2 linked regions of the Homo sapiens genome follow. The protein of the gene in region 2 interacts with the protein of the main gene of each other region in a biochemical or structural test. Each region holds a gene or a part of one and is shown on either strand. Other genes may lie near its edges.

What was found.
Region 1: of the proteins of PDC (region 2) and GRK2, one has a biochemical effect on the other in vitro, tested with the Homo sapiens proteins (one study listed by BioGRID).

What each region holds. Positions count from the first base shown.
Region 1 is NC_000011.10:67,262,115-67,269,478, reverse strand, and holds the start of GRK2 (beta-adrenergic receptor kinase 1), read right to left. Parts: upstream 3,007-7,364; 5' UTR 2,780-3,006; coding exon 2,667-2,779; intron 2,284-2,666; exon of another isoform or gene 1,654-2,283; coding exon of another isoform or gene 1,631-1,653; intron 1-1,630. UniProt on the Homo sapiens protein: Specifically phosphorylates the agonist-occupied form of the beta-adrenergic and closely related receptors, probably inducing a desensitization of them. Key regulator of LPAR1 signaling.
Region 2 is NC_000001.11:186,458,107-186,465,733, reverse strand, and holds the start of PDC (phosducin), read left to right. Parts: upstream 1-4,619; 5' UTR 4,620-4,675; intron 4,676-7,627. UniProt on the Homo sapiens protein: May participate in the regulation of visual phototransduction or in the integration of photoreceptor metabolism. Inhibits the transcriptional activation activity of the cone-rod homeobox CRX.

The sequences.
Region 1 (7,364 bases), on a different chromosome or scaffold from region 2:
ACAGTGGTGTGCAGGGGTGGGTGGAGGGGATAAAGCACAGCAAAGAAACAGCACTGGCCTGTGTGGTCCAGAAACCCGAGGCCCCATTCCAGCTTTCTTCTGTGACGAGGACACGACTCCTCCCCTCCCTGAGCCTCAATAACTTCAACTGCTAAAGGGGAGAATCCTAACTGCTGGGCCTGCCTCTCACAGTTGTCAAAAGGACAAAACAGAGTAAAAAGCACTCTGCAAGTGGAAAAGTGTCAGGCAAACATGAAACATGGTCAGGATCACCACTGGGGCGGCGGGGGGCGGGGGGCGGCGTGCTCTGCCCCACTGGGTGTGCAAGGCAAGGCGTTATGCAAAGGGTGGCCTGCTCCCTAATGCCCCAGGCCTGGACCCCCATGTAGGGGTGGCCAGTAGCCCTTCCCAGGCCTTAGCGCACTGACATTCGGCGCTCGCACCTCCAGTCCGTTTCACAGATGTGGGCGATTTGCGGAAGGCCATGCTGCTGATGGTGACCCAATGTGAAAACCTGGGCTGCCTGGCTCGGCCTCCTGCTGTCCTCCTAGAATCCTATCCAACCTTGTTTCTGCTCAGGACTGCATGGGGGTGCCACACAGTCCTGGTATTTCTTGAGCAACTACTACATGCAAGGCATGGCCTTGCCAGCTTCACAGGTTGGTTGCTGGAAGAACTGAGATGACAGATATCAAAATAGGTAAGTCAGTAATAATTCCTATCATTATTGCTATCACCGCCATCACTACCATGGATGGGAAAGGGGACAGGAAAAGAAGACCATCTCGTTTCTCAGGGTTCTGACACCTGCAGAGCCAAGGCGGCGCCCCATCAGAAGCAATGCATTCTGGGGGGAGATTACCCGAACGCAGACAGTTCCAGAAAAGGCCCCGCCTCACAGTTGCAGAACTCCATCCTGCAGGAGGGTCTCGAGGCTGCAGCCACCAAGGAGAGCCGTTTTGAGCCCTAGAGGCTGACTCCCCCGTTTCCTCCCTCGTGGGTTTGTCATTTCTGAACTCATTTCTGTACTAACCGTCACTGCTCCCTGGACAGCCCCCAGCTGACAGTCAGTCTGGTTCCTGTTTTGAGAAATCTGATTGCAAATGTCTTAGAAAAAAAAAGGCCCTAACGGCCTTTTCAAAATGCAGACCAATTTTCCTCTCCCAGGCCTGACGTTCAGTCAATCCAAACACCCAGTGAGCAGGGCATGGCACAGGGGGGCGGTGAGGGCCATGGGCATGGGGCACCCCTGCAGCGTCAGCCAGAGCTTAGACGGCTGCTTCAAAGGCTGAGGGACACCGCAGAGTCACAGCTCTTATTTCACGCCATCCACATTTCACAGATGAGAAGACCGAGGCCCAGTGAGGGAAGAGACTTACCCAGAGTCACAAGATAAGACCACGGCAGTGTGGACAGGCCCCATCCCCAGCCCGCTGGGGCACCAGGAGGAGGCCAACTCTCAGGCATGCACAAGGAGTTGCCACACGACACAAAGAATCGTGGCGGGCACGTCTGCTCCCTGGCACAGGCCAGGGTAGCTGATGAAATGTAGAACCAGAAGTCTGAAGCCCTGATCTGTTGGCCAGGTGCCACCTGGGACTACCTGTGTGACTCGGGGCAGGCCACTCACCTCTGGAGCTTCAGTTTCCCCATCTGTTCCACAGGGACAAAACCACACCTGTCCTCGCCACCCCATGCGCTGCTGAGAGGCTCACACAGTGGAGAGATACTCTATCAGCCATAAAATGCTGGACAAACCGCAGCAATCGTCCACATCCTGTGTACTTTTGCACCTACATCCTGAACAGTCTAAACTTTGATACCAGGTGTGATGTCAGTTGTCTTACAGAGGCGGCAGCTAAGGTCCAGCCATTGCAGGTGTGCTGGGAGGGCCCCTGGTCAACAGCACCCACGGGGCACCATATGCAGGGCCTGCCAGAGGAGAAATGTAGGGGAGAGGGCACAGGGGATGTTTCCCCGACCTGAGCGCGGTCCGAGGGGGAGGGTGCCCGCAGCACCCTAGGTCCTGCTCACCACGCCGCCCTGAAAGCACTCTCGAGCCCAACTCCAGGACAGCGACCCCACCAGAGGGTGGGAGAAGAGTCCGGAAGACTGGCTGTCCCCCAACACCTCACACAAGTGTAGACTGGAGGAGAGACGGGTGGGGGTAGTGGAAACCCTAAAGCGAGTGCCGTGAGCAGGGACAGCAAAAGGGTGGGTGACATCGTCAGGCGAGGTAAATGGTGGCCAGCGGAGGGGAGGGGACCCCACAGGGACCAAGGGCTGCTCCGAGAAGGATGAAGGGGCGCGCCGGGCCCCCGTGGGAGAAGGCGGGAGCCAGGGGCTGACAGCGACTTCGGGGGGCCGGTGGAGCACGATAAGGAAGCAGCAGGGCGGCCAGGGGGACCCGACTGGGTCCGGGGACCGATGGGGCAGAGGAGCTCCGGAGTTGGGGCGCTCCGGGCTCAGGCGCCCAGGGTCTGGGGCTTAGGGTCTGGACCCGCAGGCGCCAAGGCCGGGCTGCTCCGGGCTGGGGGGCCGACAGGGGGTTGCGAGAGCCGGCCCCGGGGGTCCAGGTCGCGGGGTCGAGCATGGGGCCAGGGTCTCGGGGCCGCGGCCGGGGCGCCCGCGGGGTCGGGCCGGGGCCGCGGGCAGCTTCTCCTCACCTGGGCTCGGGCAGCAGGATCTTCTTGCTGGCGCGCGCGGCCGGCGTGGCCTTGCTCTTCTCCATGGCCATCAGGTAGCTCACGTCGGCCAGCACCGCCTCCAGGTCCGCCATCTTGGCGGCGGCGCTGCCTCCTCCCGCCGCCGCCGCCGCCGCCGCCGCTCCTGCTCGCTCGGCGCTCGGCCCGGCCCGGCCGCGGCTCGCTCGGCCTCGGGCGCCGACGCCTCCCGCCTGGCCCTGCTCGGCGCCCGCGGCTCCGCTCGCCGCCGCTCACAGGCGGCGCCGCCCCATGGCGCCGGCTCGGGCCCGGCCCCGGCTCGCGCTCCGCTCCCGCCGGGACTGCAGTCGGGGCGCCGCCGCCGCCGCCGCCCGCGCGCCCGCGCCCCGGAGCCGCCGCCGCCTCCGGCCCCGCCTGCCGCGCACAACGCCAGCGAGCCCGCGAGGGGCCGAGCCGGGCGGGCGACGGCGCCCCCTGGAGGCCGCGCGGAATCTGACCCCGAACCAGACCTGCGACCGCGGGCTCAGACCCTGGCCGTGACCTCGGCCCTCGATGCTGGACGGAGACCCGGGCCTGGAACACGACAGGGACCCGGCACGGAAGACGACCCGAGACCCATTCTCTGACCACAACCTCGGGTCACATCTCTGGATCCCAGGCTCCCCAGTCGGGCCGCAGCCCTGACACCAAACGTGATCACAGGGAACCTGGACGCTCACCAAGACACAGATTCAGACCTCTGAACACCATCCTGGGACTTTCATCTCAGACCCTGGCTATAACCCCGGACTCCCTGACCTTGGACGCAGTCCACGACCTGACACCAGACTCCAAACAGGACCCCAGACTCAAACCTTGGCCCACCACCTCAGACTCTAACCATGACCTCAGATCACAGCCCTGGGTCTCCAACGCCATACCCAGACTGCGACACTCACCTCAGACCCCCAACAGGTCCCCAGATCCAGATTTTGGACCATGACCTCGATCCCATCCTGGTTACTGACCCCAACCTTGATTCTGACCCTAGGCTACTACCATGACCCTGAACTCTAGACTTGGGGTCAGGACTCAGACCTAGATTGGACTGTCAACTCCAGATCACTGTCCTAGACTCAACACCCAGAACTGTGGACACGGACTCAGGACTAGGACGTCTAACCTGGGACCCACACTGGACCCAGAATCCTTAGTAGGTCACCCAGAACCTGGGACCTGACAACTGCAGCGCAGTTACAGGCTTCCCCCATCCCTGATCCCACCCCTCCTACTCTAGAACCAATCCTGGCCGCAGAAGGCCCACTCAGGATCAAGTACCCTGCACCCAACCCCACCCCCCAACCAGCTCATAGACCCAGGTCCCTGGCCAGCACTCTTGGCAGCTCCCTTCCCTGTACCCCATCCCATCCAGATGTTCCTTCAGGATGGTTCCACATGTAGTTACGGTAAAAACTCTCCCAGCCCGGAAGCGCACAGAGGTTTCAGTGCTGCCTGGCAGGGGAAACCCACCCTGCTGAGAGCCCACCCAGAGTGGGGAAAGCCAGGTGTCTCAAGGCAGCATTCCTATCTCAACATGCCCCTCTCTAGAGCCTCTCTTTGCTTTCAAAGTGACAGGACCCTCCTCCCAGCCCTGGGCACATAAAGCTCAAATCTCATTACCATGCTGTGGGCCAGCAGCCAGCATCCTTTTGCAAAGCAAGGCCCCCATCTCTGTGCACCTCTAGGCTACCATCTTGGATCAGCCCCAACAGAACCTGGAACCAGAGCATGTCAGAGCTTGTGAGGTTCTCCTCTCAGTGGGTGGTGAGTCACTCGCCACCCATATACCCATGTCAGAGCCTCAGTTTTCTTTTCCCCAACTGCTCCTTCATTCTCTCCCCTTCTCTAATCTAATTTGTCACCATAGTCTCCTGTCTGGCCTCCTGAGAATCTCCGTGAATCTGTCTACTTCTCAGGGTCCTCATGGCCAGCCACTGCCCTGATGCAGGCCCTGACCAGGGATGCTTTTCCCAAATCTAGATCTGATGGAGTCACTGCCTGCTTGGCACCCAGAAGCAGCTCTCCAGGCCTTCTGGGGCTACTGAGAGTGAGAGACCTAGAGGGGTCTCTAGGACTCACCACACTCTGCCCAAAGCAGATTAGGTGAACAAACTCCTTAATCTGCAAGTCAAGATCTTGGAGGACTTGGACCTTGAATGCTCCAGTTTGTTTCGCTACCATCCTCTGCACCTGGAGTTTCCCCACCAACTCACCCACCCATTCTCACTTCTGTGCCTCTGCTGTTTCCTGGGCCTGGAAGCCCTTCTGTGTACCTTCCTCCGTGGACAACTCCTACTCATCCGCTAAGACTCACCTCCTCCAGGTAGTCTTCCCTGACTCCCTGACCCCAACTATGTACATCTCCAATTCTACACTTACCACCTTCTAGGCCCTGTTTTCCATTTTCAGTTGCAAGATGCATTGTTGCAAGTTTCGACAGTGGGGAGTGAAGCCTCGTTACATGTCAGCATCAATTGGAAAATGCATCCTGATGTTGGAAATGCTGATATATATATTTAAAGAGGACATACTGTCCCCCACTGTCACTGGTGCCCCTAGTTCATCCTTTGCTCCCAGTGCCCACCACAGGACCCGACTCAAAGGCATCAGTGTTTGATGAGTGAATGAATGAGTGAATGAGCTCTTGGAACACATGGGTTTTGGGGTGGAACAAGGCCAGATGCCACAACATGAAGCCTCTAACCTCCTCTCCCCACAGCCCTGTCCTGACTCCTCTGGACTGCGAGCACAGCCACATGTCAGCCAGGGTTTTCGGGAATAGCCTCTATTTTAAAAATTCTACCTGATGAACTTGTTGGACCAGAGTCTGTGTGTGAGTTCTGAAATGCCAGCCATCCTGTTCCAAGAGGTGGCCTTACCTTCCCATCCCCACCTAAAAACTCAGTCCCTCCCACCCACAGCCCAATCCACACCCCCTGCCAGGCCTGAAGCTGGGGTCTTTTGAGGGGGGCTGGTCTCCCTTCATTGATTCCTGGGCCCAGGAAAAGTGACTTCAGGAAGCTCCAGGTTCAGAAGAGGTTGGTGTGAGCCCTAGGCCTGGGGAAGACTGGTTTTGGGGACGGTGTTGCCTCTGTTGGTCCTAGGAAGGTCGATTGCAAACTTGCCTTCACAGGCAGGCCTTCCTTCTCTCAACAAACCTTTGTTCTGTGCCTAGACTGCTCCAGGCCCTGACCAGGATGCTAGGAGTGCAAAGTGGAGTAGAGCCCCATCTCTGCTCAGCTGGCAGCCCCACAGACACATCATTACTTGGCATCGCCACTGGATGACTAATAGATGTTGCAAACTTAGCGCGGCCCACACTGAGCTCTTGCTCCCACTACCCAGCCCCTGTCCAACCTGCTCCTCTCCCGCCTCCCCATCTCAGGCGTGGATCCTCCATTTTCCCAAAATGTAGGAGCTGTCCTCGATTCCTCTCTTTCCTCACCTGGCCCCCACCCCGATGTATACCCCTGCTGTCATACAGCATCTCTGGCGTATCTGTCTCTGAAGTACATCCTTGATCCGTCCACTGTGCCCTGCTAAACCCTGGCCCGAGTCTCAATCACCTCTCGCCTGCATGCCTGCACCAGCCTCCTCTCCGCGCGCCCTGCCGTTCCTGTGGGTTGAGCTTCTATAGATCTCCATCAAAGCCCACCCCCAACGACTGCCCCTGCACTTAGGATAAAATCCACCCCACTTCCTGTGGCCCATGAGACCCGCACAGACTGGTGCCTGCCTATCTCTCTAACTCAGCAATTTCCATTCTTCCCCTTCCTCTTAGTCTCCAGCCTCTCTGGTCTTCCTTCTGTCACTAGAACAAGCCAAGTCCATTTCCACCTCTGGGGCTTTAACTTTACAGTTCCCTTGCCTGGACTGCCCTTCCCCACTTCCGGAGTGGCAGGCTCCTCCTCGTGCTGCCACCTTGTGGGCGGAAGATATCCTGCTCAGCGGTCTCTCCCTTGGCATTTCTGTCCTGGTCACTGCTGCACCCCTCATCCCCAGCACAAAGTAAGGGTAAGGGCTGCATAAAGAATCAAGACTCAGTGTTAGCCCAGTCTGGTGGGGAAGAAAACCCCTAAACACATATCTCCAATTAACCTGGCAAGAGCTATAGTTTAAGGAAGTGAGGGCACTCGGGAGAAGGTCAGGGGAGGGGTCGGGGAGGGTTGGGTAAAGTCTTGAACATGACATTGTGTGCATGAGCATGAGAGAGGTTGGAAGTGGCACGTGCCAAGGCCCGGGAGTGCGAATTTTGTCCTGCTGAGACCTCTCTTCTCCGCCTCCAGCCTGGGCTTTGCAGAGCAGGAGGGTGAGCTCGGGGCTTCCTTGACCTCAGCAGGTGTGTGCCAGATTGACCTGGGGACACTCCTCCCCAACATGGACAGCCATTCCTCTGATGTCAGGTCCCCAGACAGTGTCAGGCTCTGGCCGGGATGCTGGGAGTTGATTCATTCACCCGATTATTTGACAGTATTTGTTGAGCTCCTACTACATGCCAGGCACCTGTACTTGGCGTTGCGGATCCAACACGGGAAGACACAGGAGGGGAGCTTAGAGGCAAACCATACGTGATAACAGCCGCTGACAAGTGTTGGGTTCTCCTTATGTGCAGGGCACTGCAGAGCCCAGCTGATCTCATTGAAAGCGGGAACATCCCTGTGA
Region 2 (7,627 bases):
TGAATCTGGGAGGCAGAGTTTGCAGTGAGCTGGGATTGCACCACTGCACTCCACCCTAGATGACAGAGCAAGAGTCTGTCAAAAAAAAAAAAAAAAAAAGAAAGAAAGAAAAAGAAAGAAAGAAAGAAAAGAAAAGAAAAAGAAAGAAATATGATCCCCAAAGTTGGAGGTGGGGCCTTACTGGGAGGTGTTTAGGTCATGGGAGCAGATCCCTCCTGAATGGCTTGGTGCCCTCCCAGCAGTAAGGAGTTCACATGAGATCTGGTTGTTAAAAAGTCTGGGACCTCCCTCCTGTCTCTCTTGCCCCACTTTCACCATGTGACACACAAGCTCCCCTTTGCCTTCTGACATTAATAAAAGCTTCCTGAGGCCTCACCAGAAGCAGTTACTGATGCCATGCTTCTTGTGCAGTTTGCAGAACCATGAGCCAAATAAACCTCTTTTCTTTATAAATTGCCCAGCCTCAGGTATTCCTTTGTATCTAGTGAAACCAAATGGACTATCATGGAAGCTTCCTTCAGTACAAATAAAAATTTCTTGACGATGGAGGATAATGTTCTATCCTCCATCTTTTGACAATATTTTTCAAAAGATGGAGGATAAAACATTAAATTGCTACTCCAGAGTTAATTCTGTCCAGCAAAAAAATAACCAGCCGGTAACAAGGATGTGTTGTAAACCTTCAAAAGGAAACAACTAAGGGACTTAAGCTACGAAAATAAAAGAAAAGGAAGGCTGACTACAGAAGAATAAGTGCTACAGATATATAGAAGGCAATAAGCATTACAGAAGGCAGGTGCCTGTAATCCCAGCCACTTGGGAGGCTGAGGCAGGAGAGTTACTTGACCCCAGCAGTTCAAGGCCAGCCTGGGTAACATAATGAGACCCCTTCTCTTAAAAAAAAAAGTTATATATTCTTTTGCCAAAGACTCTCTAAAATAAATAACATCAGGAGATAATAAAATTCTGACAATAACTATCTCCACATATTTTTAGGAAAGGAGAAAGATAAAGTGGCTGATGGTGTAACATCTCAGTGAATGCCCATATGATTTGTTAAAGGATACTATAAAAAGGTAGAAAAAAGGGTATGCAATCAAATATGATAAAATAAAATTAAGAATACTATAATCCAAAGTAAAATAGGTTTCAAAAATATGTTTGAAAAGATTTAAAATTATGCATATAGTAAGAAGACAATGAAGGAAGATATGTCTCCTCTTTACATGAGTAATAAATTGCTAAGAGAAAGAGAAACTGGAATTCTTACCTTGCTTTCCTCTTCTCAACCAAGAAGAATAAAATTCAGACAAGAAAGAGTAGAACGCATATTGGAAAAGGGAAATAAAATCCTAAACAGAAGAAATTACAGGACTATCTCATTCTGGTAAGTCTTTTCAGCAGTATGGTCTTGTTTCCAAACATGCCCTTCCAGCTCTAAATTTAATTCTGCTATTTGAAGACTGAGGGACATGTTTTCAAGTTCAAAGTAAGGAAAGGTTTATTTTTAGTAAAAACGATGTCTGCCACAGCGCCTGCTTCATTTACACCCTTTATTACTAAAAGTTCCCCAGCCCCTACTGAAAGGGAGCCCTATGTAGATCACATAACCTTGCCATCTGGCTAAAGCTGATTAGACCAAGGGTGTGACCTTGGCCAAATTATGCCAATGGCATAATGAAGCAAAATGGTTTCGGCTAAACAAATCATATTCTCCCAGAATACTCATTTGGAAACATGGAAATAGCCAAGCTGTTATCAATAGATGGGAGGCTTAAAAAACTTCTATAGATAGGTGTCTTGAGTAGAGTCAAGGCCATGAGGGGGGTTATGGAAAACAGAACAAATAAGAAAATATATATTGAGGAAGCACAGGCTGTAAAGTAAAGGTGATATGGAAGGCCTTAGGAAGAGTATTAACTAGTGACAGAAGATCAGCCACGGCGGGAGGAGCAGGGTTGGGGGCAGGCAGTGCATGCGGTTAGTGGGATGGAAAGCCGCAATCTTGGTATTTGAGCCCTACTGGGAAGATCAACAGACCCCTCCCAGCTGCTAAGGTGTTTACTCCAGCATTGTATCCTCCAAGATTTTGAGCTGACATTCCATTCTCCTAGGACTAGAGTGTATAGCTGTCCTTGAACTCCTAAGGAATTCATGGTTTTCTTTCAATTCTGTCCTTACAATTAACTTTCTCACGCTCAAAAAGAAAAAAAAAAAGAGCAAGTAGATATATATGACAGCCTTGGAACCAGAAGAATCTACACTGAAGGCTGTTTAGGATTTAAAGAAAATTCTGTAATTTCATCTTTTTAGAGCAGGTAATTTAATCTGCCCTAAACAGGAGACTTTACTGGTTAACAGTGTGGACCATGGAATTAAGTCATACCTGAATTCGAACGCTGGGGTCTGCATGGACATAATGTCAACATTTGAAACATAAAAACTGTTTTCTTGCTGCTGTATATAGAAGTACCTTGTCCACAGAAGAGTGCTTTCACACAGTAGGCATTCCACTAATATTGGGGAATAAATGCATCAGTTAGATAAGTTATAAAACTTATCCAAGCCTGTCTCCTCATCTATAAAATTATACTTGACCTACCTCAGGGGATTGTTGTAAAGATTATGCGAAGTAAACAATTAGTACCTGACCTGGCATGATGAGCACTCAGAAAGTGTCCTAATTATTAATATTTTTATTTCTGTTTTCTAAGATTATTTTCAGCTGGTTTATAATGTTTGTGCCTTGTAAAGTATTTAGTATTCTTAAAATTGGATGTAAAATCATATATAAAAATCTAAACACTATATCAACATATAATTCTAATACTTTTAAATGTTTTTACATCAATCAAGAATCATATGTGTGAAATAATGACCTTTTGGGCTTTGACTCTTGACAAGTTTTCATGATCTACAAAAATTACTCAATTCATAATTGAAGCAATTAGATCAGATATGCTTGTCCAAATTGTAGGCAAGTGTGTGATGTCCGTAATGACCCCAAATCCCTCCAGTGAACAGGTGCCAGAGATAGCACAAAATAAAAAGCAAATTATGGAAATATCTGTGTTGGGAAGGTGGGGGTAGGATAGGAATTGCTATAGTAATTTTTTTTTTACCGTTAAGTCTCTATGCTTGTGCCTATATTACATATTTGAACATATGAGTACCAAGCTATATTTGACAGTAACTTAAAACATATTTTTTGAATGTTAAAACCACTATGACATTTTTTATCATCAAACTGAAATATTAAATTTCTTCACATTTGCCATCAGAAGGCATCTTTTAAGTTACATTTGTATTGCACCTGACTACATTCTAGATTCTTTAGCTAGAGAGAAAACACTCAGTTCATAAAAACTGAAAGTGAATTGCCCTGAGAAACTCTGTTGAAAAGCATATGTATAGCACACAAACTGGAACATGAAACCTGCTAAATGGGAGGTAAAAATTTGATTTAAGGATGAAAATGAAAGTTAATTTAGAAAATACTTTGATTTCTGGAAGAATCTCTTTGAAAATATTTATGGTTGTGACTCTCTTAAATATTGTAAATTTTATGTACTCTTCTCTATTCTTGAAATCAAATTCTACAATAAAAAATATATAAGCAAACAAAGTTCTGAAATGTGACAGGTTTCCCTCTTACTAACAAAGAGTAAATAAATGACAAATTAATTTAGTATAATAAAACATAACTATTAAAATTTATTTAGACACTATCACTGTTTAAATTGCATTAAGATCCACTTAAAGTTTCTGGGTGAAGCTACATATGACTAAACCTTATAATTTAAAAATCTAAATGTGTTCATTTTAATTGCCATTAATATTAAAAATTTTGTCCTCTTGCTAATTAAAAATTTCCAGTTTTAAGCTTAGAGTAAATTAAATCTCCTACTTTGGCAAAGTTAGATGAGAATTTGGCTGTGAGGATGAAAGATGTTAGGAAAAGATGGAAGATTAAACACATGCATCTACTTCCCCTACATCTCAAAACTCCATTAAAAAACAGCAGGAAAGGAATTTTTAATGGTAAAAACCAGAAACAATAAGGAGAAGTGAAAAGGAGAAAATGCCAATAAAACTAGAATCCAGAAAGCAAGTAGATCTGTAAAGACAGCCCATCTGAAAAAATTGTATTAAAAGCCTGTAGTAAGAGAAGATGAAAATCATAGTATCTCTCTTATTCCTCCCAATGTTGTAGTAATCATAGCACTTCATTGTGATTATCTTTTTACTTACCTGTCTCCCCCACTAGACTGCAAGCCTCACGATATAGGAAATAGGGTTTATTTGTCTTTGTACCCTAGTGCCTAGCTACTGCTTGTTTCACACAAAGTAGGTGCTCAGTAGATGATTATGGGACTAATGAATACAACTCATGTTATTGCGATAAATAGTACTAATAATGACCTCTGTCTCTCATCTATTCAATGTGTTCTGTAAAATATAAACTGACTACTCTTTGTTTGGTTTTGCCTTATTATTAATGAACTGGCCTTGCTAATTCTGTCAATCCTATTACTTGTTCAGAGCTATTTCTGCAAGGGTCATCAATATCTGGAGATTTTAAATCTGAGCTTAAACCTATTGAAGTTCAAGACGAGTTCAGTAGACAGGGATTCTCACCCACTCAACAAGGACACCAGGCACAGAGATCCAAACTGTGAGTCCACAAGTAGTCCTTTTGATAATATAATTTTAAAAATTTTACCTTAGGGGAAAGAATGGTGATTCACTGTTTATGTATTATTGTGTTAATGTAAAATAGTTCAAAGTACATAAGGTTTTGAATTATCTACTATAAAGACAATTAAATACAGCGTATCCTTCTCTCTTTCAGTGATTTCCACCAGTCATCTTCACTAATACAGATTCAGAGTAAACACGCAATTTTGAGCCTGATATTCTAGACTGTTAAAATAAGACCATGAATGGAGAACTCATTTTGCAATTTTAAATTTCCTTTGAGTGAAGGGAGAACTAAAGAGAATAAATGATGAGTCCTTGCACTTTATGTTTGAAGATCTGGCTCCCAAGTTGGAAAAGGAGTGCGGTAGTTGCCCCTTATCCAAGGGGGATATGTTCCAGGACCCCCACTGGATGCCTAAAACCATAGATAAAACTGAACCTTGTGTGTATACTATGTTGTTTTCCTGAACATACATACCTGTGATAAAGTTTAATTTATAAATTAGACACAGTCAGAGGTTAACCATAATCACTAATAATAAAATAGAACCTTTATAACAATATGCTACCATCACAACACTTGCGCTTTGGGACCTTATTAAGTAAATAAGGGTTACTTGAACACAAGCACTGCAATAGTCAATCTGATAACCAAGACAGTAATGCATATGGTGTGGATATGGTATACAAAGAGATGTTTCATGTTCCAGGCCAGAGAGAGCAGGATAGTGTGAGATTTCATCAAGCTACTCAGTACACTGCAAATCTAAAACTTGCAAATTGTTTATCTCTGGAATTTTTCATCTAATATTTTTGGACCAAGGTTGACCAAGGGTAACTGTAATCACAGAAAGAAAAACCTCAGATAAGTGAGGACTGCTGTATTCATCCGGCGCTAAGGCATGTTTTGAGGCTTTTCCTTAGTAGTATGTTGTTGTGGCGGTGGTTTGTTGGTGGTTTTTAATTTTTAAAGTAGAAATAATGTTTGTTTTGAAAGGTTACTTTAGAAATTTAATGAAACAGAAATAATGTTTTTAAAAGAAAAGAACACAGAGTTTGTTGATATTTCTTAAATTCAGTGAAAATTTTCTTTCAATTGGTTTTTTTTTTTCTATTTTGTTTCCATGGAGGTTATTATTATTACTAATAAACCTTACAGTTTGCATCATGAAAATGAGTGCAGTAATTGATTTGCAATGGAGTATTTTTATTAACTGCAAAAATAGCTTCTAACTATAGAGTCCATTTTAAATATATATATATATATATATATATATATACACACACACACATATTGTCCATTGTACCTGCTACTTAGAATCACCTCATATTAAAGCTAGAAAAAACTTTAGAGATCATCTAATTCATCATGACAATTTCTGCCCAAATACTATGTTTATAAGTGGATTTGATATTATATAAGTCATTATCAAAATATATATGAACCATTCATAATAATGTCTGTAATGGAATTCAAACAATATGTACAGGAATATGTATATTTACAAGATAAACAGATACTTTAAAAAAGATGGCTGTTATGAATTTCTAAAATTCTATTTTCTCCAGAACAAGTAAAAGAATATCTGTATGTCTGCAATCCCGGCACCTCGGGAGGCCAAGGCTGGCGGATCACTCGCGGTTAGGGGCTGGAGACCCGGCCAACACAGCGAAACCCCGTCTCCACCAAAACCAGTCAGGCGTGGCGGCGCGTGCCTGCAATCGCAGGCACTCGGCAGGCTTAGAGCTTGTTAAAGATTCCTGGGTCCCACTTCAGATCTGCAAAGCAGGATCTTAGAATCTAGGGCCTGAAAAGGAGGAAGGGTCCTGGTAAATATCCCCAGGCTTTCTTTTTCTTTTTTTCTTTTTTTGAGTTGGAGTCTCATTCTGTCCCCCAGGCTGGAGTGCAGTGGCGAGATGTCGGCTCACTGCAACCTGCGCCTCCCAGGTTCAAGCGATTCTCCTGCGTCAGCCTCCGGAGTATCTGGGACTACAGGCACCCACCACCACGCCCGGTTAATTTTTGTACTTTTTGTAGAGATGGGGTTTTGCCATGTTGCCCAGGCTGGTCTTGAATTCCTGCGCTCAAGTGATCCACCTGCCTTGGCCTCTCAAAGCGTTGGGATTACAGGCGTGAGCCACCGCGCGCAGCCTCTCCAGGCTTTCAGCTGGGACCATGAAGGGCTCCACTCTTTGTGGTGATGATCAGAGGGGCGTATGCCCTCCATAACACTCCCATTCTTCATCTTTTCTCATATTCCAGGAGACTGGCCCAAACAGGACTGTTGAGTGGCTCTAAGGCTTTTAGACGTCAAAAGGGTTTATAAGAATAATCATCATAATATAGTTATGAATCAGAAACATGCATACATTTTCTTAAATGACCCTGTGGGGACTGGAGTTAAAAAGGGAGGAGTACCCAGATGCAGGCGTCTAGCAGAATGGACTTGCTTGAGAATATCAAGCAAGACAGCCAAAGAGGACTCCTAGGATTGTCTCACCAGGACTTCTGAGGCGACTCTAATGAAATGACTTAAAAGTGTGGTGGAGTGGCTTCTGTGGCTCCCACACCTGCCTAATCCTGGTTGATATTGCACAACCAGCGTGCACTGACAATCTCTGGGAAAAAAGCAAGGTCTAATATTCAAAGCTTGGCAAACATGACCAAGACTTTTTCTCTTTCCTTTGAATTATTTTAGTTCCCTAATTTTTTGTCCCAGATGCCACTTAATTCTTTTTATTTTGTATTAAAAGTTGTGCTCTTGTCTCAACCTTCTTTCTAAAAAAAAAAAAAAAAAAAAAAAAAGAATATCTGTATGTCATAATAGCAAACTTGGATAGGTGGATGTCTTTTCACTAGGAACAAGAATTCAGTTATGACTTTTAAAGCTCATATTTCCAGAGTAAATTTTTTTTTACTGATGAT